Regions from separate parts of the Homo sapiens genome. Here regions 2 and 3 are each linked to region 1. Evidence: fine-mapped expression QTL. A gene starts in region 1. Each other region holds a variant in brackets. All regions are shown on one strand. Distances are from middle to middle. Region 1 holds the start of TRABD2A (TraB domain containing 2A). Region 2 overlaps DNAH6 (dynein axonemal heavy chain 6). Region 3 overlaps TRABD2A (TraB domain containing 2A).

Region 1 (8,273 bases):
CATGGTGGCTCATGCCTGTAATCCCAAGACTTTGGGAAGCTGAGGCAGGAGGACCATTTGAGGCCTGGAGTTGAAGGTTACAATGAGCTATGATCACGACACTGCCCTCCATCCTGGGTGACAGAGCAGGACTGTGTCTCAAAAAAGAAAAAAGAGAGAGAGAAAACATGGCCATGGGTGACTGAGACACAGAAGCTACAAGCTTCTGAATCAAACTGAGATTTTAACAGACACCTGTGTAGTCCATCCAGTGAAAAAGAACAAGGCACAATGACAACTGCATATTGCAAGCTAACTCCGTAACACCCAGCACACCCTCAGCTCCTCCCATCCTAGCATCCCTGGACCTGCAATAACTGCACTTTTCCAAGATTACTCTTCAGCAGACCAGCCACAATGAAGCTGGCTTTACATTATCCTTTTCATTCAACAAATATTTTTTGAGCATCTGCTATGGCAAGGCACTCTTCTGGATACTGGGGATGCAGAAGCAAACAAAACAGACAAAAATCCCTACCCTTATGAAGATGACATAGGGGAAGGGGCAGCAATAAACAAAAATTTTTATCAGATGGTGATTAAGTGCTATAAATAAAAATAAAGCAGGGAAGGCAGATGGTAGTGGTGGCAGCAGTTGATGTCACCTTTACGAGAGTAATCAGGAAGAAACTCATTGAGAGACGCTTGAGCCAAAGCCAGATGGAGGTAAGGGAGCAAGCCTGTGGATAAATGAGGGGAGAATTTCCCAGGGGGAAGAAAGAGCAAGTATAAAAGGCATCAGGCTGGACACGGTGGCTCACGCCTATAATCCCAGCACTTTGGGAGGCTGAGGCGGGTGGATCATGAGGTCAGGAGTTCGAGACCAGCCTGCTCAAGATAGTGGAACCCCATCTCTACTAAAAATACAAAAATTAGCCGGGCTTGGTGGTGGGCGCCTGTAATCCCAGCTGCTCAGGAGGCTGAGGCAGGAGAATCACTTGAACCCTGGAGGCAGAGGTTGCAGTGAGCCAATGTAGCATCACTGCACTCTAGCCTGGGTGACAGATAGAGCAAGACTCTGTCTCAAAAAAAAAAAAAAGGCAGCAGGCAGGAATAGGAAAGAACACTAAGAGTTCTGTTTGACAAGAAAGAGACTCAACCTGCGTGGTGCTCAGGGTAAACCCTGCAGTGTCTAGGGGCCAATTTGGGCTCAGAAGACCTCTCTAATGATTAACCAACCATGAAAACCAAACCAGCTCTCAAGGCTACAGTCCTGCAGAATCCTATAGGGGCTGCTGCACTGGATTGGAGGCTGGATCCCAGGACTTCCACTCTAGAATCTCAAGACCCCAACCCACTGAGGAACCCAACCACAATGCCCTTACAGCATGTGGGTCAGACATACAGCATGTGTGCCGCTGATTGGCCTTCCCAATTCCGCAGGGGGTAAGACAGAGTTTGCCCACAGAATAGAACAGCAATTCTCAAAGTATGGTCCAGGGACCTGTGGGTGTCCCCAAGAGCCTTTCAGGGAGTCTATAAGGTCAAAACTGTTTTTATAAAACTAAGATATTTTCCTTTCACCCTCATTTTCTCACAAGGTACTGTAGAATTTTCTGGAGGCTACATGTGTGTGATGAGGTCACTGCTCTGATGGCTAATGGAATGTGTGCTATGTTGTGTTTTACTACTATCTCCATTAATTCACATAAAGTAAAAGTCTTTGAGGTTTTCAATACTTTTTTTTTTTTTTTTTTGGATATAGGGTCTCGCTCTTTCACCCAAGCTGGAGTGCAGTGGCACAATCACACCTCACTGGCCTCCACTCCCAGGCTCAAGGTTTCCTTCCACCTCAGTCTCTGGAGTAGCTGGGACTGCAGGCACATGTCCCCACGCTGGTAATTTTTTTTATTTTTTTGTAGAGACAAGGGTCTCGCCATGTTGGCCAGGCTGGTCTGCAACTCCTGGGCTCAAGTGATCCACCGCCTTGGCCTCCCAAAGTGCTGGGATTACAGGAGTGAGCTACCATGCCGGGCTTCTTTGATAATTTTTTGTAACGTAAAGGAGTCCTGAGACCAAAAGGTAGGACGATGGAATAAAGGACTCATAAAGACAGATTCTAAAGGAGAGAGATCTTATCCAGACTCACTCGTCATAATTACCAGTCGGTAATAGGTTTTGCAGAAGTGAAAGGCAATGTGCTTTCTTGTGAGGAGATGGACTCCTGCCTTGTCTAACAAGCATGAAGCGGCCACACCGCAACAGAGTTTGAAACCATGCCTGGTGCAGACTCCCCTCTCCAGCTGCCGCGCCTCCTGCCTTGGTAGAGGGCCGTCCGCAGCCCCGCGACGCCTTACAGAGGCGAACACCGTGCGTCTTCCCAGCCCGGAGCTCCAGGATCGGCTCTATTTGGCCGTCCTCTGCTTTGCTGCAGTTGGGATGAGGAATAAAATTGCGAATGGCCAGGGGTGGAGGCAGACCGGGGAGCTGCGCAGGTGTCATCAAAGGTGGGCCTCTAAATTCCAGCCCCCACTCCCTCAACCCACCCCCAACCCCCCCCACCCCCGCGTCGCGGGCGCACCAGAAGGATAAGCCTGGCATGGCCCTCTCCAGAGCCAGGGACGCACAGATATCAAACCCACCGGAACAAATGCGCGAAATTCAACCTATGCCGCACTCAGAAGAGAGGGACTCGAGAACCACAGAAAATTCTGAGTGTAGGAAAACTGATCAGAGAAGGAAATATTCATCTCGAAAGAGGTCCAGCCTCGGAGACGCAAGACCTGTCCGCTATAGAGCTGTGTTGACTCGGGCAGGTCACTGAGCCTCCCTTGCCTGGGTTTCCCTCACCCACAAAACGTTGATGCGAACATCTAAAGCGCCCGGCTGGACACGCAAGGCTCGGACAGTGGTCACTCCGCGAACGCACTCTGTGACCTGGAGCACACAGGTCCCCCGCTGAGTGTCAGTTTCCCAGATCGGTAAAAACAAGGGAAATGGCTTCAACTCCCTAAAGTCCCTTCTAACTCAGGCACTGAACATATGAAGGTTAAGCCAAGCAGCTTCAGGGCGCTGTTAATATTTTGATAAGAGCAGGTGAAATTAAACTCTTAAGGAAGAGAGGGAAGAAGAAACTTCAAATAAATGTGCCCAAGTTCCTGGTCCGGTACTCCCTGGCGGATCCGTCCCCCGAAAGCTCGCGAAAATGGCTGGCGAGACCCCAGAGGCTCTCTCGGACGCCCTTGGGCTGGCGGAGGGCAAAGGCCAGGGCACTGAGTCGCTTGGAGCCTGCGGGCTGCGCCCCCGCGGGAAAGGGGAACCCGAGGGCACGGAGAGGAGAGCGAGCAAGGAGCGCCGCGGTGCTAGGTGAAAGCCCAGCCGCGGAAGTCGGCTCGGGGTCCGAAAGCGCTGCTTCGCGGGGTTCGGAGGGAAACCATCCCAAGGAGGTGCAGAGAGGCCGGCTCTCCAGCACCCGACGCGCGCCTTACTTGGGGCTTGAGCTCGCAGTTGGCGGTGCCGGGCGCCCCGCGCCGCGAAGCTGCGCCCGTGGGCAGGAGGCAGAGGGTCTGCAGCAGGAACCAGCTCCAGGGACTCATCCTCCTCAAGGCGGCTCCGAGGCCCGGAACGCGGAGGGAAGGAGTAGGGCAGAGGTGGCCGCCCGCCCTGGCTAGCCGGGGCCGCGGGGCGCCTCCGGGCGGGGCTGGGGTGAGCCCGGCAGCAGCGGCCACGTGGGGCCGGGCCTCGACCTCCCTCCCCCCACCCCACCCCCGCAGGTCAGCCCCGCGCCTAGGCGGCAGCGGAGTCCCGAACCGCGTTTCTCCCGCCCAAACCCTGCCGGGGCCGCCGCCCACCTCGTGTGACCGCAAGAGGGGTAAAGTGAAGTTCCAGCGCTGTCCTAAATTCAACCTAAAATCGCATTGGTTCCTGCGTTTACGTCTGTGCTTATGCTGCCGATTGTGAGGGGAGGGTGCCTCTTGATTGAAAGAGGCAGACAAAATAAACAAATGAAAGGCTATCTATAAAGGAAAGTTCATTTAAACAAAGGAAATCTCACGGAAGTTTTGAATGTAAAAGAGAGAGGGGAATGGTCAGTGTGTGCATCCACTGAAAATCCAGGACCACAAAAGCTGGCACTCCATTAAGAGCCCTCTTAATGGATTTTTAGGAATAATATTAAGGATGTTAACACCGAACTCAGAGGATTGCCGCAAGGATTAAAAGAGGAAATTTATGAGAAACACCTTGATTGGCACACATAGCAAGCCTGCAAACTGCAGTCGCTCCCTTTCGGCTCCAAAACCCCACTGAGGATTTTTCACAGCATTGGTCCATCAGGAAGAAAAAAAAATTATGAAAGCAAGTAGCTGTGCCCCGCCTGCCGCACCTCCTACCCATGCCTGAGCGCACTTTACCACCACCTTTTAAAGTCCAGACGTCTGCGCCATTAACTTCGGAGTGGTGTTCGCAGGAGCATTTGTCGCAGTGGTCTTTAATTGCTTTAAGTCGCTGTCCATTTTGAGAATCTGATAACTGGACGATCTCCCAGGGAAAAAGAAAAGGGGGGGGGCAGATTTGCATACAATGCGGGGAGAGGTTTTCTGAAGCCCATTTCCAACTTTCCCGTAAAGAACCCCTGGCTTTGAAGAGCCAAGTCTTTCGAGATTTAACTCCACCAACATTTAGAGTTCAGATGTTTTTGTAAAATCGCTTTTTTCTAAGTTTGAGTGGGGATTTGCTTTCTGGAATTGACTGTCTCCTGTCTTCAGATGACTGCCCCGTGTCAGCCCGGCGGCAATCGTTAGTCTCCGGGCCAACCCAGGACGATGCTTTTTGGCGTTTTCAGGCACCAGCGCTGCCACCTGCTGGCAAAAACTTTCTCTTTCGGTTGTGAGGGGGAAAAGCAAAAAGCATCAAGAACGTAAGTTGCCCTGAGCTAAGATCGAACCACTGCACTCCAGCCTGGGCCACAAAGTGAGACCCTGTCTCTTATTTAAAATAAAACAAAACAAAACAAAACAAAAAACTCAAAAGGATGTAATTACCTATTATTTCATGTTATCTCTCCCACTCCAAATGAATCAATCCGTGTGGCCACAGAGAAGCCCGCCCAGCTTCTCTCTGAGCTGGGCTTCTCTCTGGCCACACAAAACATGGCTGAATTTGTTTATTTTCTCCTGTTGTTTGTCTCTCTTTTATTTCGTTGGTTTCTGCTCTTATCTTTGTTATTTCCTTCTGTTTGTTTACTTTTGGGTTTACTTTGCTTTTTTTCTGGATTCTTAAGGTGGTACCTTAAGTCATTGACTTTAAGTCTTCTTGCTTTTGTAATATAAGCATTTAAAGTTATAAATTTCCCTATAAGCACTGCTTTAGCTACATCACCCAAATTTTGAAAAACTGTATTTCATTATCTTTCATTATCTACTTTCCCTGGTGATTTTCTTCTTTGCCCGTGGATTATTTAGAAGTAGGTTGATTGATTTCCAAACTATGGAATTGTCCTAAATATTAGGTTGGTGCAAAAGTAATTGTGGTTTTTGCAATATCAACAGATTTATAATCCAATTCTGTTGTAAACAGAAAACATACTCTGTATGATTTTGATTATTTTGAATTTATTGGGACTTGTTTTATGGCTCAGCATATGGTCAGATACTGAGTATGAAATATCATATCCATATCCAAAGTACCTAGATAATTTTGTTTGATTCTGACAGTTTTTAAATGAAGTGTTTTTTTTGTTGCTGTTGTTGCTTTGTTTCGTTTTGTTTTTTCTCTTAGCCAGACCCATCATCAAGTAGGATTTATTCTGTAAGACACTCAGTGTCCGAATATTCTATAGAATCACATCTACTCTACTTACATGTTTCCACAGACATTCCTAAGTTCACTATCATCCCACAGTGCTGACCCAGACCTGGTGACAGGCTGACATGGCCTGGTCCTCACTTGCCTTATACAGACATCTGGGTTGCAGGCCTTTCTGCCTTTCCCTTCCTGGTTAGGAAGGAGATGTTAAATGTACCCATGTCCTCCTCTCTGCTTATCTGCCGAGTTTCTGTATCAAGTTTAGCTCCTTAACTTCAGCTTTGTTACTGGATCATACCTCTGGCTGCCCATTGCCAGAGCCCTGAATTGCTTCTGAACCTTCCCTGGTCCTTTCTCTTTCCCCTTTCATGTATGGTTGATATCCTTGGCAACCCTCCCATATTAGTCCATTTTGTGCTGCTATAGAAGAATACCACAGACTGGGTCATTTATAAAGAACAGAAATGTATTTCCTTACAGTTCTGGAGGCTGGAAAATCTGAGATCAAGGTGCCTAGCATCTGGCAAGGGCCTCCTTACTGCATCATCCCACTGTGGAAGGTGAGAGCACAAGAGAGTGAGAAAGAGAGAAAAATCGAGATTGAGAGCTAAAGTCATCCTCAAGCCATTCATGAGGTCATGAGGGTAAAGCCCTCCCATGATGTCCCAGCTCCCAACACTGTTGCATTAGGGATTAAGTTTCCAACATATGCTTTTGGAGGACACCTTCAAAGTATAGCATCCGCTTAGGTCCATCTACTCTTAAGTGCTTCTTTTGTGCCCCTAGTAATGACTTTCTGAATTTACACAAACCTGTGAGGCTTGTCCCCTTCATAGCAGTACCTGAGAAAATTATACTGCTGATACCTTTTTGCTCTTTCCCCAAAATCAGATTTACCCTCAAAAATAAAGTTTTCAGAGTATGCAGAGGATTTGCTATGGCTTCAGCAACACTCTGTGCCTTCACCCTGCCTTTTTCTACCTGGCTTGGCTGACCTGCAGTCATCCACAGATTTCCAGAGGTGATCGGGACATCAGAGGTGTGGTGGCAGTTCCCCTTGATTCTGCCTCCTGATATTCACACTTATGTTTCATACCCTGTCCTTTATTGTAACCAGAACCTGAGACTTGCTTCTAACAATGAAATACGGCAAAGGTCATGGGCAGTGCTGTGATTACTTGTACATGACTACATAAACATGTACTGCTAGTCTTGCTAAAGTCTCTCTCTCCATTGCTATCTTTCCCAGCCTCCAGAACTGTAAGGAAATGCATTCTGTTACTTATAAATGACCCAGTCTGTGCTATTCTTCTATAGCAGCACAAAATGGACTAATATGGGAGAGTTGCCAAGAATATCAACCATACATGAAAGGGGAAAGAGAAAGGACTAGGGGAAGGTTCAGAAGCAGTGAAAATCTCTCTCTCCATTGCTAAGCAAGTTGCCATGAGACCTACAGAATTCATGAAGACATGAATTCTGCCAACAACCTAAGAGAGCTCAGGAGCAGATCCCTCTCCAGTTGAGCCTCCAATGAAAATCCAGTCCTAGCCAACAACACCCTGACTGTAGCCTTGTGAGACCCTAAGCAGAGGACTCAATTAAGCTCTGTCTACACTCCTGATCCAAAGCAACTGGGAAAATAAATGTGTGCTGTTTTAAGCCACCAGGTTTGTGGTAATTTGTTGCAGCAGCAATAGATAACTAATACACCAGGGGAAGTGGGATGCTAAGCACATTCCCAGGAGTTCCAGCATGGTGCTCGGCCAGCAGGCTGTGTCCGTCCTCAAGGTGAGCAGTTGAAGACCTAAGTTGATGGAGGTGTGGAAACACCTACTCCCTCCACTGCCAGGTGTGCAGGCTCCGTGCATTCTTGGAAAGGGGCTGAATGTTGCCACACTCCCTCGCCCACCCAGTGTTGGCACAAGAATTTCTAAGTAGGAAAGAGTGGCAAGTATGCCAAAGCTGCATTTGCTTTGCAGCACACTGCTTGTACCAGATTGTGAAAAAGAGAAAACATCCCTGGACAGCTGGGAACTGGTCTGGTTTTATCAGTCAGGCCTTGGTGTTGCTACAAGCTGGCCTGGCACTCACAGCTAAGCCATGGTGTTCTCCTGTTGAACATAAACAACTTCACAGAGCATCAACATCAGACAAGGCCACTCTGTGATGAATGAAGATGAAAGCAAAACCCCTCCATAATCACATCTCAACACAGACAAAACATGAACATTGGCCAAGTCACAAGAAAGGGTGTCCAGTCATCCGCCTCTTCTGACTAAGGAGTGATGGCTGCTCCTTTACCAAGGCCAGTTTTCACCTCCATTCATTTCTCCCACCTCATAGATGAGATACGTTAAGATTCTATTTGGGGATAAATTAAGATCCCCCAAAATTCATACATTAATCCCCTAACCCCTAGTGCTTCAGAATGTGACTGTATTTGAAGATAAAGTCTTTAAATCGATGATTAAGTTAAAATTAGGCTG
Region 2 (8,000 bases), 310 kb before region 1:
CATCACTTATGTAGCATTACTGCCAAAAATTTAAATCTGAGTCTAATCATGAGGAAATATAAAACACACACATGCACATATACACACAACTGAGATACCTTTAAAAAATGTGAAGGTCATGCAAGGCAAAGAAAGATTGAGATATTGTCCCACATTAAAGAAAACCATCCAGGCGCAGTGGCTCACGCCTGTAATTCCAACACTTTGGGAGGCCTAGGTGGGCGGATCACAAGGTCAGGAGTTCAAGAGCAGCCTGGCCAAGACTGTGAAACCCCATCTCTACTAAAATTACAAAAAAAAAAAAAAAAATTAGCGTGGTGGCGGGCGCCTGTAATCCCAGCTACCCAGGAGACTGAGACGGAGAATTGCTTGAGCCCGAGAGGTGGAGGTTGCAGCAAGCCGAGATGGCACCACTGCACTCCAGCCTGGGTGACAGAGAGAGACTCTGTCTCAAAAAGAAAAAAAAGAAAAAAGAAAACCAAAAAGATGAAAAGATGCAATACATGATCCTAGGTAGAAAAGTAGACCAGAACAAAAAATGTTTTTTCCTTTTACTATGAAATTCATTACTGGAACAAATGGTAGAATTTGTATGAGGTCGGTAATTAGATAGCAGTATTAATATCCATGTTAATTTCCTGATTTGGACCATTATACTGTGGTTATGTAAGAAAATGTCCTTGTGTTTAGTAAGTAACCCCTGAAATATTTAGGGGTCAATGTGCCACATGTCTGTAACTTTCTCCCAAATGGTTCAGAGTATAATAATATGTGTATATAGACAGACTTATAAAGTAAATATGATAAATTGTTGAAGTTTAGGGAATTTTGGTGACAGAGATATGCAGTTCTTTGTACTATTCCAGTAACACTCTTGTGAATCATACATTGTTTCAAAATAAAAATGTTTTGAAATCATATTTTGAACATCGGTGGGGCTTTCCATTTACAAGCCTTATATTGTTTCTAGCACCTGCATGATGACATATGAGAGATACTATTTAGTCCGTTCAAAGGAAACATAGTTTGATAAAGTTTTTTTTCAATGTTTATTATAAAGAAGAAACAGCAGAAACATTCTGGAATATTCATAAAAGCCTATTAAAATAAATGAACAAATAACTAAATGTAAACATACAGGGTGTGTGCTATTCTTTGTAATTAAATTTTCTACTACCACAAGGCATAACTGAGTCACTTTCCCTAGCATTGGTGTGTTGGATTTGTGCAATTCCATTGGTCACCTCTAGTTTTCCTGGGACAAATTGCAGACTTTTACAAGTCTTAGTAGAAAACACAAGGAAAAGGTGTGGAGCACAGCCAAGTAGACATGGACCAAGACCAACAGCAAGTGAATCCTAACTGCCTTTCATAGACTTTGAACATATAATAATATATCTTGACACAGTTATTAAAGGGACTGAAGTGATTGGAAATCGTTGTCTTGGTTTAAAAAAACTTTGTGGGGAAATATGGGTTAGAACCAAGTTTAAGAGGGGTGAAGAAAAAGTTTTTATTATGGCAAAGTATGAAGGATATTTTGGAGTAAGAGACTGGCCAATGCCAAAGATTTGATAGTAAGATTAAGCAAGTGATTTTCTGGGCATGCTAAACAGGTTTGCCTTTGCTTAAAAACACAGTGACATAAAATATGCAGTTGGGAAAATAAACAAGTATTGCCTCTTTGCCATATGTTTACTAGCAATATATAAGTTCACCATGAAGCAGAAACAAATTGTGTTTCCTTTCAGTCACAGGAATAATTCTTCAAAAGTCAGGTTTAAAGATGAATTTTTTTTATTTCATAACAATTTCTTCTTGAATCCATCAATTACTCCTCGACATCAAGAATATATCTTTCTTCATTCATGTTTCCCAAATCAAAACATACTATTGGGCATAGAGTTTGTGTGCTTGCTTGTTTCTTTGTTTAGTTGTATTGAATTAAATTCTGCTTAACAAAAATATGGTCATATTTGTCTGCTTATTTATAACATTTAGGAAACCATTCAGGCCGCATTTGAATCAGCCCGCATCTATGCAGCTACCTTTGAAAAGTTCCAGATATTCTTCAAGGAAAATGAAAGTCTTGATTTACAAGCTCTTAAACTTCAGGAACCTGGTAACTTGTCCATTTGTACTTACTAATTATTTTTATAGGGATACTGAGATTTGTTGTTTTTTAGGATTCTGTTTGGTGGTGTCTGGGGACACAAATGGTAGCCCAAAAGAGTTGGCCTGACATAAGGCAAGAGTTAATTCATTTCTAGGTTATTTTCTATAGAATCACTTTTTTCCTTTCTCCTTATTCAGTATTACTTTTATTTCAGGATATTATGGAAAGCAATTCCTTCCTAATCGCTTATCATTTAGTTTAAAGTTGTATCAGTGCTAAGAGTATATAGCCTGCATATGAGAAGTTGTTGAAAGGAATGGATACCTCTACCAATTCCATTAAATAAAGTTTACATAAGCTTTTCTATCTCAGGAACTTATTCTTTTTTCTTCTGGGACTACATTAAGATCTGGTGGGTGTGAATCAACAACTCTTAGTCATGAAATAAGACCTAGGAGAAAACTGTTTTATTTCACTGTCTTTAACAATAGAAGATAATCTACAATATCCAAGTGCAATTTCAGGCAAGCAAGTTCTCAGAAAATTATAAAAAATAAGTATATTTGTTTGCTATTTTAAATCATGATGCATGTCTTTCATATTCTTTTTTATTTCATGAGCTTCCTTTATTTTCTTATATATAAATATAATTACAATTACATTGATACTTTGCTCTATGAACCAGCACTAATTTTTTCTTTATGTTTTTATGTTTTTCTTTCAATTCCTTATTGTTTACTATGCTGAAGTATTCTTAAGTTAAATAATTCAATATGCATCTCTAAAACATGTTTCTACAGAATGAAAATAGTATCATCCTCCACCGAAATAGCAATTCCTTAATATCTTAACTTATTCCATTTTCAAAATTCCTCAAGTAAAGCAGCTTCCAGATGATTTGGCCAGGGATCAAGTCCAAGATCAGTCATTGTATCTGATTGTTATGTCCCTTAAATTTTAAAAATCTGAAACTGACTCCTTTTTTTCAAGATACTAAGTCGTTAGACCAAAATGTGGCCCCAATTTAGAAAACAAAATTTAGACAAGCCTACTTCCACTGTTCTTTGACAACACTATCACATGGAGACTTAGTGTGTGCTGAACAGAAGCATACCGACAGGGACGTGAGGACATGATGCCTCCTGTGCTATGTCATGGCATCACAGTGGCAGCAGGGTATGGAGCCTGGAATTTTGGCACAAGAAGGAGGCCTGATCAAAATAGCCAGTTCTAATCCCTGAGCTCTTCTACTCATATCCTGAGCCCAAGGCTTCCTAGCCTCCTGCTACCACAGTCCTCACGTTGGATAACTGTGATCCCTCAGCAAGTTCCCATCAGCATGCAGTCCCCTGACTCCCAGGTTGCTCTTCAGCTAGTCCTATCTTGTCTTGCCAGTCCTGCCTTTGAAACCCAATCCTGGAACCAGGTCTCCCAGTCCCAACACTCTGATGGCTGCGACTTTGGAGTACCTTGGCCTGGACTCCTAACCTCTGTGCTCCTCCTCTGTTTGGAACCCCCAGTACGTCCTAAACCACTAAATCCAGTTGTTTGCCAGAGGGTTATAGAGGTGGGCTTTGCCCTTGGATATCAACCTTACCTGTTATTTGATATCCTCAAACGACTACAACATTGCTTAGCACATATTGTAGATCCTTAATAAATGTCTAACTGAACTTTTAGCCAGACTGCTCCCTGTCCTGCCTCAGAGAACGACCAGCAGATAGGTTCTGGCTTCCTGACAAGCAGCCACATCTCACCACCAAGTTCCTATAAATGTCAGCATTTACTAATAATTTCTACACTTTACTGAGCACTTACAGCATGATAGATACTGTTCTAAGTAATATTTAGACATTTCATCCAATCCTCACAATTCTGAGGAGAGTATTAGTATTACCATTTTATAAAAGGAAAACAGAGATCTATAGAGATAAGGCAACCTCAGGATTAAACAGCTAGTGAGCAGTTTAGATCTAATTTCTCTGACTTGAAAGCTTGTCTGCTTAACCGTTTTACGTACTGCCTCTCCGCGGTGGCTCACGCCTGTAATCCCAGAACTTTGGGAGGCCGAGGCGGGGGGATCACGAGGTCAGGAGATTGAGACCATCCTGGCTAACATGGTGAAACCCCGTCTCTACTAAAAGTACAAAAAATTAGCCGGGTGTGGTGGCGGGGGCCTGTGGTCCCAGCTACTCCAGGGGCTGAGGCAGGAGAATGGTGTGAACCCAGGAGGCGGAGCTTGCAGTGAGCCGAGATCGCGCCGCTGCACTCCAGCCTGGGCGACAGTGCAAGACTCCGTCTCAAAAAAAAAGGAGAAAGAAATCGTATTTCTCAACTATCGGCTTTAATCTTTTATTCCTTTTTGGCTATGTGGCCATAGCCAAGTCATATGACCTCAATTTCTCTATCTATGAAATAAGAGTTTTGGACCAAATAAATGGTTCCCAAAGTTGTGTTCATTGGCACTGTTCTGAGGGATAATTACATGATACCATGAAAAAAGATGGTGCTCAAATAAATTTGGAAAATACTAAACAG[C/T]GCAGCATTATACGGGTATCCTTACCATACGACTTATCAGATCATTTAACATCTTAATTTAGTCGGCTTTCAAAAATACACAAATCAAAACCTTCTGAAGTGAGTAAGGGAGGTAATTGCTGTTTCTGTCTTATATTATGAGGAAGCTGAAGCTCGGAAAGACTAAGTAACTTTCCCAAGGCCACACATGGGTTAAAGACCTGAGCTCAGGTCTTCCAATACTTTCTCTGGTGTGTTCTTTATACTATATCAAACTACCCCTTATAATTAGGAGAGGAGATGGCATGAATAAAGGCAGGAAACAGCACCCCTTTCTCTTTGGGGTGGTGGAGGAAGATTATGGAAGGAGGAAAAAGGGCAGACAGTAAGGAAATCAATTTGACCCAAATGTAGGAGGTAATTAGAAATAAAATTAGCTAAATTTTTAGAGGCCCAGAGGGTACAGAATTTTGAAAGACAAGCAGAGAAGTTTAGAACTGTATATGCATTAGAGAGAGAGCTATTTTTGACTGATAGTATGATGAGAGTATATTCAAGGATAATGAGGTTTCCATTGGTTCCAGATGGATTGGATGAGGGAGGAAATGGAGGCAAGAAGATTATCAAAATGCAACTGCAGCATATGCAAATTGACAAAGGCCTTGACCATGATGTAGGGTGCAGGAATGGCAGAGAGATGTGTTGGGAAGAGAAACAGAGATAATTTTAGCTATGTGTGATCTCTTATATTTCAAATTTTGTTGTTGTTTATATTCTCAAAATGCTTTACTTTGAGACACCATGTGGGAGAGAACATTTAGATTAATCCCAACTTGAAACCAACCTAACTCTGAAATCTAGTCAATTCCAGACTAGATTCTCTAATGCACTTACAAGTTATTTTCATCTGTCATCTCTTCATAGGAGCCAGAAGACATATTTACATTATAAAATATTAGTTTCTTTATCACAAGAATAAAATCCTATAAAGCAATCCAATTAGCATTTTAAAGTTACATGAGATACTCTAAGTACAGATAATAACATTATACATATATGTGTAAATTTATCAATGCAATGATTTTTAATATATTTTGTAATGATCTTTTAAAATCCAATATGGTATATTTTATGCTTTATGTGAATTTTTTTATGTAGATATTAACTTTTTTAGTGAACAACTGGAAAAATATCACAAACAGCACAAGGACGCAGTAGCGCTCAGACCCACCAGAAATGTAGGATTGCTGCTCATTGATACTAGGCTTCTAAGAGAAAAATTAATTCCATCACCTTTGCGATGCTTAGAGGTAACTATAAACTAGAAAAAAAAATAATTATTCCTCTACAATTATTTTATGATTTTTCTACTGCACAAAAACCTAGTATTTATTTTATAGTATTGCAAATATAAAAATTAACATAAGACTATTGGACATCCTTAATTTCTAAGAAAAGCTCTATAGTCTTTTTGTCACAAGCATAATCAGCTTTTTAGATGAGATAATGGAGGGGACTGCAGGCCTCACACTGGCCTCTTGCTCCTACTCCTTTTTCCATTGTCGGAGCATTTCAAGACCTGCAGAGAGGATACTACCATAACAGCTCAATATCCTAGAGGGAGTGATGGTTGATTCTAGACCACCGAGATCAAGTTTAGGAAATCATTTTCTGATCTGGAATTGTCCCTACAGGTCTGATTATGTTTTGGTAAGTTATAGAACTAGGGAAATTTCTGTAATAAGTTTCAGAACCAATACAATAATTTCCTTTGGAGCCAGAGTATACTTGTGTCTTCCCAATGCCCACAGAAAGACAATGATATAAAACAGGAATTGGAAAACTATAGCCCACAGAGCCAACCCAGCCTGCCTCTTGTTTTGTATACAGTTTTATCAGAACACAGCCATGACAATGGTTTACATATCATCTATGGCTGCTTTCTTCCTACAAGGACAAAGTTTAGTAGTTGTGACAGAGACTGTATTGACTGCAAATCTAAAATATTTACTATCTGGCCCTTATAGAAAACATTTTCTGGCCCCTGGTAGATGATAGAAGATAGAGCACTGTATAAAAAAGAGTGCAGACCTGAGTGCTAGTATTTTCTGTTATTAATTAATTGTATGGCATTGGGCTTCCTTCTAGAGTTTTGCTTCTTCATCTGGTAAAAAAAAGAAATATATATATAATTATGTATATAATTGGAGCAAATTTAATTCAATTTCAACAAGCACTTTTTAGCTACTGTATGCTCAAGAAATACTTGGATATGTATTTACTGTAAGCCCAAGAAAACTGAACTCAAGCTGGCTTAAGCAATCAGGAGAGTTATTGGCATATGTATCTAAAAAGTCCAGAGATTGGGTCGATATCAAGGAGGTATGATCTAGTGGCTCAGTGGTGTTACCAAGGAACCAATTATTTCTTTCTCTTTCCTGAGCCTCCTTATGTGCAGGCTTCATCCTAAGGCATTTGTAAAGTGATTGTCAAAAGCTCCACAAGCCAATTATTTGTTTGTATGGAGAGAGACAGAGAAAGCCTGGGGTTCTGAGTACACGTCTCTCTCAGCCATAAATAAAAGTGTGGGCCTTTATCTGATTGAATCAACTAAAGTCAGAGGTTCACACTTGATATGGTTTAGATTTGTGTGCCCACCCAAATCCCACCTTGAATTGTAATCCCCAGGTGTAAAGGGAGGAACCTGATAGAAAGTGATTGGATTATGGGGGTGGTTTCCCCTATGCTGTTCTCCTGACAGTAAGTGAATTCTCACAAGATCTGATGGTTTTATAAATCGTGGTTTTTCCTGCACTCTCACATACTTCTTCCTGCTGCCTTGTGAAGAAGGTGCCTTGCTTCCCCCTTCACCTTCTGCCATGATTGTAAGTTTCCTGAAGCCTCCCCAGCCATGCTGAACTGTGAGTCAATTAAACTTGTTTCCTTTATAAATTACCCAGTCTCGGGCAGTTCTTTATAGTAGCGTGAAAATCTTAATCTGATCAGTTTGGCCAAAAAAGCCATGTTCCTATTTGCCAAGTCATCAGTCAGACTGCATATTTGTTTCTGAAGGAGAGATCAAATTCCCCCAAACTGCATGGCTAGCGCCCAACATGAAAGGAGTGGGACTGATGCTGGACAGGGCAGCACAATGTCCACTACATAGGACAAAGAAGCAGAAAGCATACTTGCAAAATATTAGAGCATTTAGGGAAAATTTTTGGTAAGCTGTGGAAATGATCTTCAAAACCTGGCCTTCCTGTTGGCTCATTTAACTAGCAGTGATTTAAAGAGAAAAAAAGTCTCTTCGTATTCACTGCTGCTTCCAATGCCTGCTGATTTAACAAATCCAATTAGGATTTGTCTG
Region 3 (8,273 bases), 49 kb before region 1:
CAATACTGGCCTACCCCAAGACTAAGGGAGCTGGCAGGGCCTTAAGTAAGCTAAATCACCACTTAACAGCCCTCATGTCCCCAGCCACACCAGCCTGCCCTGGATTCAAGTTCCACATGACCAGAATCATCCCTTAAGGACTACCAGATGGCTGCCGAGGAGGGGAAGAAGGAAACAGGTATCCCTCCACTGCCCTGGTCCTCCTTGCCAGCCCCTCTTTGTGGGCATTCTCCCCAACCCACTTCCCTGGGCCCTTAGCCTCCCGGGACCCTGTCCCTTCTTCCTGAACAGGAGCTCCTTTGGAGACCTCATCCTCCCTCATGGCTTCACCTGGGACCACTGTATGCACGTTCACCCCTAAAACCTCTCAGGTCCCCCACTGGCTGAATAAATGAATGCATGTGAGCAGTACCAGCAATGATATTAACACATAATCAATCCTATTTGAGATCCCATCATGTGCCAGATGCCAGGATAGGTACTCCTGGAAATCCAATTTTGAAAATTAGATCCTTGTCCGGAAGGCTCTAGAAGAAAGAGAGAGCTCTTGCACAAACCATAGGTTCCTTGGGGTCATGCACAGGATGAACCCAGGCTGGAGCAATGGAGGAAGATGTGGCAATTGTGCTGGATCTCACAGATTCTGATAGAGAGAACTGGGGGTAGTGTGGGTAGGGAAAGGATCTCTGGCAGAGGAAACTGCACGAACAAAGACAGAGGCTAGGAAGTAAAAGGTGGGAGAAGAAAGGGTAGAAAGAAAAGGTTTGGGAGGTGGAGGGGTCTGTGCTATTTCCTGGTCCTGGTTAATAGTGTGGCCTTTCACAGTTTCTTCGTTAGTAAATGAGAAGGAACACTTCCCTTGCGGGCTGGTTTTGAGAATTAACAGAGAGCCCATATAAACCTGGCTACCACCTGATGATCCACCAATAAATGCTCTTTTTCTCCCCGGGGAAGTGAGAACACTTGTTCTCAGCCTTCACTGGGCATCGGAATCTCCTAGAGAGCTTCTAAAAAGACGGATTCCTGACCTTCCTTTCCCCAAGGGCAGGTGTCAGGGTTAGAGGCAGAATTAGGGAGCCTGGGAACAACCAGCAACACACACACACACACACACACACACACACACACACCACACACACCACACATACCACACACACTACACACACACAAAACACACGTACCACACACACCACACATACCACAATGCACACCCCACACATACACAACTCACACATCAGACATGCACCACACATACCCCACACACATACACAATACACACACCACACATACCATACACACCACACGTACCACACTGTACACACACAACACACGTACCACACACACCACAACACAACGCAAACCCCACACGTACACAACACACACATCAGACATGCAGCACACATACCCCACACACATACACACAACACACACACCAAACATGCACCACACACATGCACAGTACCCACACATGCACACACCAGCCATGTTCCACACACATCCACACTACACCACACACACCCCACATACCACACACACCCCTCACACACAGGTACCAAACAACACACATACCAGACATGCACCACACACACACCATACACATGCACACTACACACACACACATACACCCCACACATATTCCACACTAGATACACACCACACAAACCCTACACACAAACATCACACACAACACACCCCTCACACACACCACACACCAGACACACACAAACACAAACATTACATACTCCACACACATTACACCACACACACGTACACACTCCCCAGGTAGGGCCCTCTCCAGCACCCTAAGGACAGTGCGTTGAACCCCAGGCCAGTCAGCCCAGCGGGAAGAGCTGAGAAGGGACCAGAGGCCAGTGAGGGAGGAAAGACCCACAGTCCTGCAGGGCGCAGAGAACCCCTAAGGGCTGGCTCCTCCAGACCTGCAGGAGAACAGGAAGGAGAGAGGCAGGAGACGTGAGCCTGCAACAGAGCTGACTCAGGCAGGGGCGGGATCCTCCCGGTCAAGGGGAGGAGAGGAGGGCTCCTCAGAAGGGGGAAGTAGCGTCAGTAAAGGAGAGGCGGGGACGGGATGGAGGCTCTTCTGAAGCAAGCAGCAGATCCATGCTGGAAGGGTAGGGTCTGAGTGCCAAGACCTCCGCGTGAAGACAATGACCTTGAAAAAGAACAACATGAAACCACGGAGGGTTTGAATATAGGACACTGGAAAGAATAGTCCCACAGAAGGGCGAAGAGTGAACCAGAGGGAGAAGGGCCTGGAAGGGGGCGGTGGCCATGGAAATGGAGAAGGACAAATCCCAGCGAGTCTTTAGTGGAGGAAGCCAAAAGCCTGGTGGAGAAGGAAAATGAGCAGTCTCACATCAGCGCTTCTGTAAACTAGAAAGTGCTCTGTGAAGGGCGGTCAGTATTGACATACTGAATACAGGGCATGAAGACAGGTGGGGATGAGAGAAGTCCAGGATGTATCCAGGATTTCCCGCCTGAAGGGAGACTGGCAGGAGCCTCTGGGGTGAGGGGGAACAGGGAGACAAGGTGCAGTGAAGGGGGGCCTTCTGAGGAGAAAGAGGGCAGCTGGAGATGGGCGGCCTTCGGGCAGACACAACTGCTGGATCCTCTGCCAGGGGATGGGCATTTGCATCCTGGAACTCTCTCGCTACAGCTGAGACCTCTGCCAGGAGAGGGGGCTGCTGACCACAGATCGGGAGGCAGTGGGGGCCAGAGGAATGGAGGGGATATTAGGGGCTGATGTGTGCCCCCCACATTCACATGTTGAAGCCCCATCCCCAGTACCTCAGAATGTGACCATTTGGAGTTAGGGCCTTTAAAGAGGTGATTCAGTTCACATGAGGGCCCTAGTCCAATAGGACTAGTGTCCTTAGTAGAAGAGAGGCCAGGGATGCTCGCTTACAGAAAAAAAAAATGCCATGTGCCGGCAGGAAGAGAAGGCGGCCATCTACAAGCCAAACAAAGAGGTCCCAAGAGAAACCAGTCCCGTTGACACCTTGATCTGGGACTTTCAGCCTCCAGAACTGTGAGAAATGCATTTCTGTTGATTAAATCACTCAGTCTGTGGTTGTTGTTATGACAGCCCAAACAGACTACTACAGGGGAAGGGGAAGGACACCTGGGGCCCACCAGGATGGACGACCAGTTGGGAGGCCAGTGGGTGGACAGCATTGCTGAGGGCTGGGGGCTGGGCCTCCTGAGTTCTTTACAGAAAGGTCTGAAAGGGCAGAGGGCAGTTTGGCCAAAAAAAAAAAAGAGAGAGAAATAAACCTAGGGAGGAGGAAACAGCTCAGAGAAAAGGTGCTTTCTCCTGCCCCTGAGAAGGGTGAGACATGCACTCCCTGCACCCCTAACCCCTCTGGCCTGTTTACCACTGTCATGGCCCGATTTTGCCTCCCGAAAACTTCCAAAACACCTAGGGCAAAGGACACTGGGCATTAAGCCTAATTACTCCTCCTTTCCCCTACCCCTCAACCCCTGGGCAACCTTCCCTTCACCTTCCCCCGCTTGCCAAACACCACTGAGGAAAACGCCAGTGTGGCCCCTGCAGCCCAAAGTGTCCATCCTGCCAACCACGTCTGACACAGCCCCAGCCACACAGAGCCAGCTGAGCTGGTGCCAAATGTCCATGTAAGGTCAAGTGTGGGGGAAATGACGAGGCAGGGGTTCTCTGGAGCTCCTCAAGATAGCAGCCCACCCTGGTGCCCAGGCAGCCCCATGAGGGTCTCAGCTCCCCAGCCAAGATAGAAGCACAGGACGGTTACTTGTGGATGGGTCGTCCAGCAGGGGC[G/A]TGTTCTACCTCATAGCCTTCACGCCGCAAAACATCCAGCACTGTGTTGTTGCCCATGAAATGACCTGCAGTGAGAAAAACAACCTGAAATGCTGCAGCTCTCAGGACCACCAAACATACTCCCCAAACACACACCCTAGAACCAAGAAATTACCCTGCCAAGCCCCCTGCCTATCTGTCCAGCACAGTACAGTTCTAGAGAGCTTCTGGAATCAGGCCTGCCAACAGTCCTGCAAGGCAGGCAGGGCAGCATCAGTAGCATTTCAGAGACAATGACACTGAAGATCAGAACAATGCAGCAAGTTACCTGAAGTCACAAAGCTAAGGGGATAGCCTGGACATCAAACTGCAACCTGGTAAGACCTCCCAGAAGAGGTGATATGTGAGCAGGATCCTGAAAGGTGAGGACACTGGTCTGGAGAAAATACAAGAATTCAAGCTGAGCACAGTGGCTCACACCTGTAATCCCAGCACTTTGGGAGGCCGAGGCGGGTGGATCACCTGAAGTCAGGAGTTCAAGACCCACCTGGCCAACATGGTTAAACCCCATCTCTACTAAAAATACAAAAATTAGCCGGGCATGGTGGCAGGCACCTGTAATCCCAGCTACTTGAGAGGCTGAGGCAGGAGAATCACTTGAACCCGGGAGGCAGAGGTTGCAGTGAGCCGAGATCATGCCACTGCATTCCAGCCTGGGTGACAGAGCAAGACTCTGTCTCAATTAAAAAAAAAAGGAGGGGGGGGAATTCCCAACTACAGGATGGAATGCAATTGTGCTCTCTGAAAAAACAGGGAGGCTGGTGGGACGGAAGGAATGGCTACTTCCCAATCACCACTTTCTAGAAAAAGTAAAGGCAACCTAATCTAAGATCTGTCATTCTTGGAGGTTTCTGCATAGGACAAACCCACTGTAGTCTCAGGAGTCACAACCAGGGAACCCTGGGAGCCTGCGGCAGTACAGCAAATAGGCCCCGAGAAGGAAGCAGAAGGCCCATGGTTCCTGCTTTCATTTTCACCCTCATGCATCAAAGGGGGTGTTCATGGGTCAGCAGGGGCTCAGAAAGGGAAGTTTGGCAAAACCATTCCCTCCCATCCTCCCCTCTCCTCCCCACAGCCTAGACCAGCCTAGACAGCTGCCAGTGCAGGGGCGATAGCTGTAACCTAGAAATGTGGGGTAGGAGAGGAGGCCACTGGAGAAGTAACCCTGGCAAACAGGAGCCAAAAATCAGCATGAGCTGATTTAAGATCGACACCTAAATAAGAAAAAAAGTCATGTCTTTCACCACTGATCCTAGGTTATTCATTTGCAAATAAGGAACTGGCAATTTAGAACAAGTGATTATAGTTTCCACTTAGCACTTCTGACTTCAATTTTTCTTCTACTGCAAAGGTGATTTCCATTTCTAATCTTCGCATTTTATATCCAGATCCCCATGACAAAAGTCGCTGCTTGATTTTAAAACTCCAGTACTTTCCATTTTCAGTTATCCTCATTTTGCAATTAAAAGTTTGCTAACCACACAGCTTTTAAGTTTTAAAAGCACACGGTAATGTGTTTCGGAGCAATTTCTGTAGTTTCCTCTGTTCAACTTAGCCTTCAGAAGGCACAGAGAGAAAGCAGCTACAGGAATATAACTTTGCCTTAGAAGGAGCCAGTGCTAGATGGGGGCTCACAGCCCCTGGGCACTTCGGGCATCAGGAGTGCCCAGGGGCTGTCAGCCCCAATCTAGCCCTGCATCAGTATGACAAATCAAGCCCTGAGTACTGGGCAAGCTCAGGTGTTGGTGTTGCCTGTTCCACCTGCCTGGCAGAACCCCCACCACGAGGGCCCACCCACCGAACTGCTCAGACCAAGCTGTGCCCCAGCCTCCCACCAGCCCAGAACCCAGTCGACCTTTCCCCTCTCCCCAGCGCCCCATTACCCCTGCCACGGGACATACGGGAAGTTTTTGGGAGCTCACCTAAGTCTGGCAGGGGTGGAAAGCAGAAGCCCACACTCCAGCACCTGGGCACCTTCCATCCACACAGACCCGGGGTGGTGCATTGGGACACCACCACTGGCTCTGTTTCCTAACTTTCTCATCTGGGGTCTGCACCACTGTTACGGTGCCTCAAGAGTGAGGCCCAGGCTAACAGCTTTGTTCCAAGAAGCCATTTGTTGAGACAGTACAAATGTGCACACGGTGCCCAATCCAGACATGAAACACAGGACTTACAGAAGAAGAAAACTACCACATACTCACGGGCATTGCTGAGGGCACAAACTGCAGTTTGTTTGTGGCAGAACTTTTCAATGAGCATAATGTGGGAGCCAAACCCCTTATATTTCTATAACAGTTTTATTAATATTTGAATATAATTCACATAACATAAAATTCATCCTTTTAACGTATGCCAGTCGGTGATTTTTTCTGTATATTCAGAAAATCATGCAATCATGACCACTATCTAATTTTAAAACATTTTCATCGTTTTGACCCCAGCCCCTGGCAACCACTAATCTATGAATACTTTCTGTCTCTATAGATTTGCCTGTTCTGGACATTTCATATAAATATAATCATATGATTTTGTGACTGGCTGTTTTCACTTAGCATAATGTTTTCAAAGTTCATCCATGTAGTACCATATATCAGTACCTCTTTCCTTTTTATGGCCAAATAGTATTCCATTTGTGTGTATATATCACCTTTTATTTATCCATGTCAGTTGATGGATAGTTGGATTGGTTCCACTTTTTGGCTATTATAAATAATGCTGCCATGAACATCTGTGTACAAATTTTCGTGTGGACATATGTTTTCAATTCTCCTAGGCATATATCTGGAAGTTGAAATGCTGAATCAAATGGTAGCCCCATGTTTAATTTTTAAAAACTGCTAAACAGTTTTCCAAAATGGCTACACCATTTTAAATTCCCAGTAGCAATGTATGAGGGTGCCAATTTCTCCATGTCTTCACCAAAACTTTTTACTCTCCATCTTTTTTATTATAGCCTAGTGAGTATGAAATGGTATCTTCACTTTAGCACCACAACAATAGGACTCCAGTAAAATAACAGTGGATTATATGTGAAAGTGCAGCAAGACTCAGACTCTATTTAAGAAGGTTCTTAAGAAAGCACAAGACAAAAAATACTAGAGGAAAAACTAGAGGTCACTAGAGGAAACTGAAGCCTCTGGGACCTAGAGTTACAGCAAACATGCCTTAGTCTGTGTTGCTGTTACAAAATACCACAGACTGGGTCATTTATAAGCAATAGAAATTTATTTCTCACAGTTCTAGAGGCTGGGAAGTCCAAAATCTAGGCATAGGCATTCAGTGCCCAGTGAGAGCCTTTTTTTTTTTTAATACAGAGAGTCTTACTCTGTCACACAGGCTGGAGTGCAGTGGCATGTTCACAGCTCACTTCAGCCTCGACCTCCAGGGCTCAAGTGATCCTCCCACCTCAGCTTCCCAAGTAGCTGGGACTACAGGCACACATCACTATGCCTAGCTAAATTTTTATTTAATTTTTGTAGAGATGAGGTCTCACTGTGTTGACCAGGCTGGTCTCAAACTCCTGAGCTCAAGTGATCCTCCTGCCATGGCCTCCCAAGGTGCTGGGATTACAGGCATGCACCACCATGTCCAGCTGAGGGCCTTCTTCCTGAGTCTTTACATGGCAGGAGGGGCTAATGCTATATCTTCACATGGTGGAAGGCACAAGGGCAAAAAAATAGCCTACACTACTTTCCTCCAGTCCTTTTAAAAAGCATGAATCCACTCATGAATGTGGAGCCTTCATGTCTTAATCACTTCCCAAAGGCCCCACCTCTTAATACCATGACAATAATAATTAAGTTTCAACACACAAGTTTTAAGGAACATTCAGACCACAGCAAAACATTAAACAGCCCAACTCTGAGAAAGATTAACATAAACCCTCACACTAAAAACATATTTCCCTCACTTCCCATTGCCAAATACATCATATCCAGCTTTCAATTAAAAATTACAAGTCACACTGGGAGGCAAGAAAAATCACAATCTGAAGAAACAATGAAAGCATCAGACCCAGACTCAGACATGATAGAGATTCTGGAATTATCAGATAGGGAATATAGTTGAACTGAAGAGCATCATCAATCAAATTGATCTAATTGACATTTAAAGAATACTTCATCCAACAACAGCAGAATACAAATTCTATTCAGCTCACATGCAACAGATTTCTCCTTCGTTTTTGATTTTTGCTGGATGTGGAAATGTTTGTTGACAGTCTTTTATTTCAGCATTTTGAGTATGTCTCCCATAGCCTTCTGGCTTGCATGGCTTCTGATGAGAAATCTGCTGTTAATCCTATTGGGGATCCCTTGTCTGCTTTGCTCTCACTGCTTTCAAGATTCTGTGTCTTTGGCTTTTGACAGTTTGGCTATGACACGCCTTGGTGTGAAACTTTTTGATTTTATACAACTTATAG

Evidence for each region. PIP is the estimated chance that this variant, and not a neighbour inherited with it, causes the effect.
Region 2: its variant is fine-mapped to the expression of TRABD2A in whole blood (TOPMed, PIP above 0.99).
Region 3: its variant is fine-mapped to the expression of TRABD2A in whole blood (TOPMed, PIP above 0.99).

What each region holds. Positions count from the first base shown.
Region 1 is chr2:84,877,465-84,885,737 of GRCh38, forward strand. It overlaps TRABD2A (TraB domain containing 2A), which reads right to left and starts at 3,620. Exons shown (of 7, transcript NM_001277053.2): 1 at 3,468-3,620. The coding sequence starts at 3,575. RefSeq lists enhancers at 2,862-3,364, 3,365-3,865 and a silencer at 3,595-3,724.
Region 2 is chr2:84,571,466-84,579,465 of GRCh38, forward strand. DNAH6 (dynein axonemal heavy chain 6) reads left to right here. Exons shown (of 77, transcript NM_001370.2): 12 at 2,002-2,122; 13 at 5,792-5,943. Among named protein-coding and RNA genes, the nearest start is that of DNAH6, 59 kb to the left of the region's middle. The variant C/T (reference allele first, on the strand shown) is at 4,655.
Region 3 is chr2:84,828,270-84,836,542 of GRCh38, forward strand. It overlaps TRABD2A (TraB domain containing 2A), which reads right to left. Exons shown (of 7, transcript NM_001277053.2): 5 at 3,786-3,876. Among named protein-coding and RNA genes, the nearest start is that of TRABD2A, 49 kb to the right of the region's middle. The variant G/A (reference allele first, on the strand shown) is at 3,812.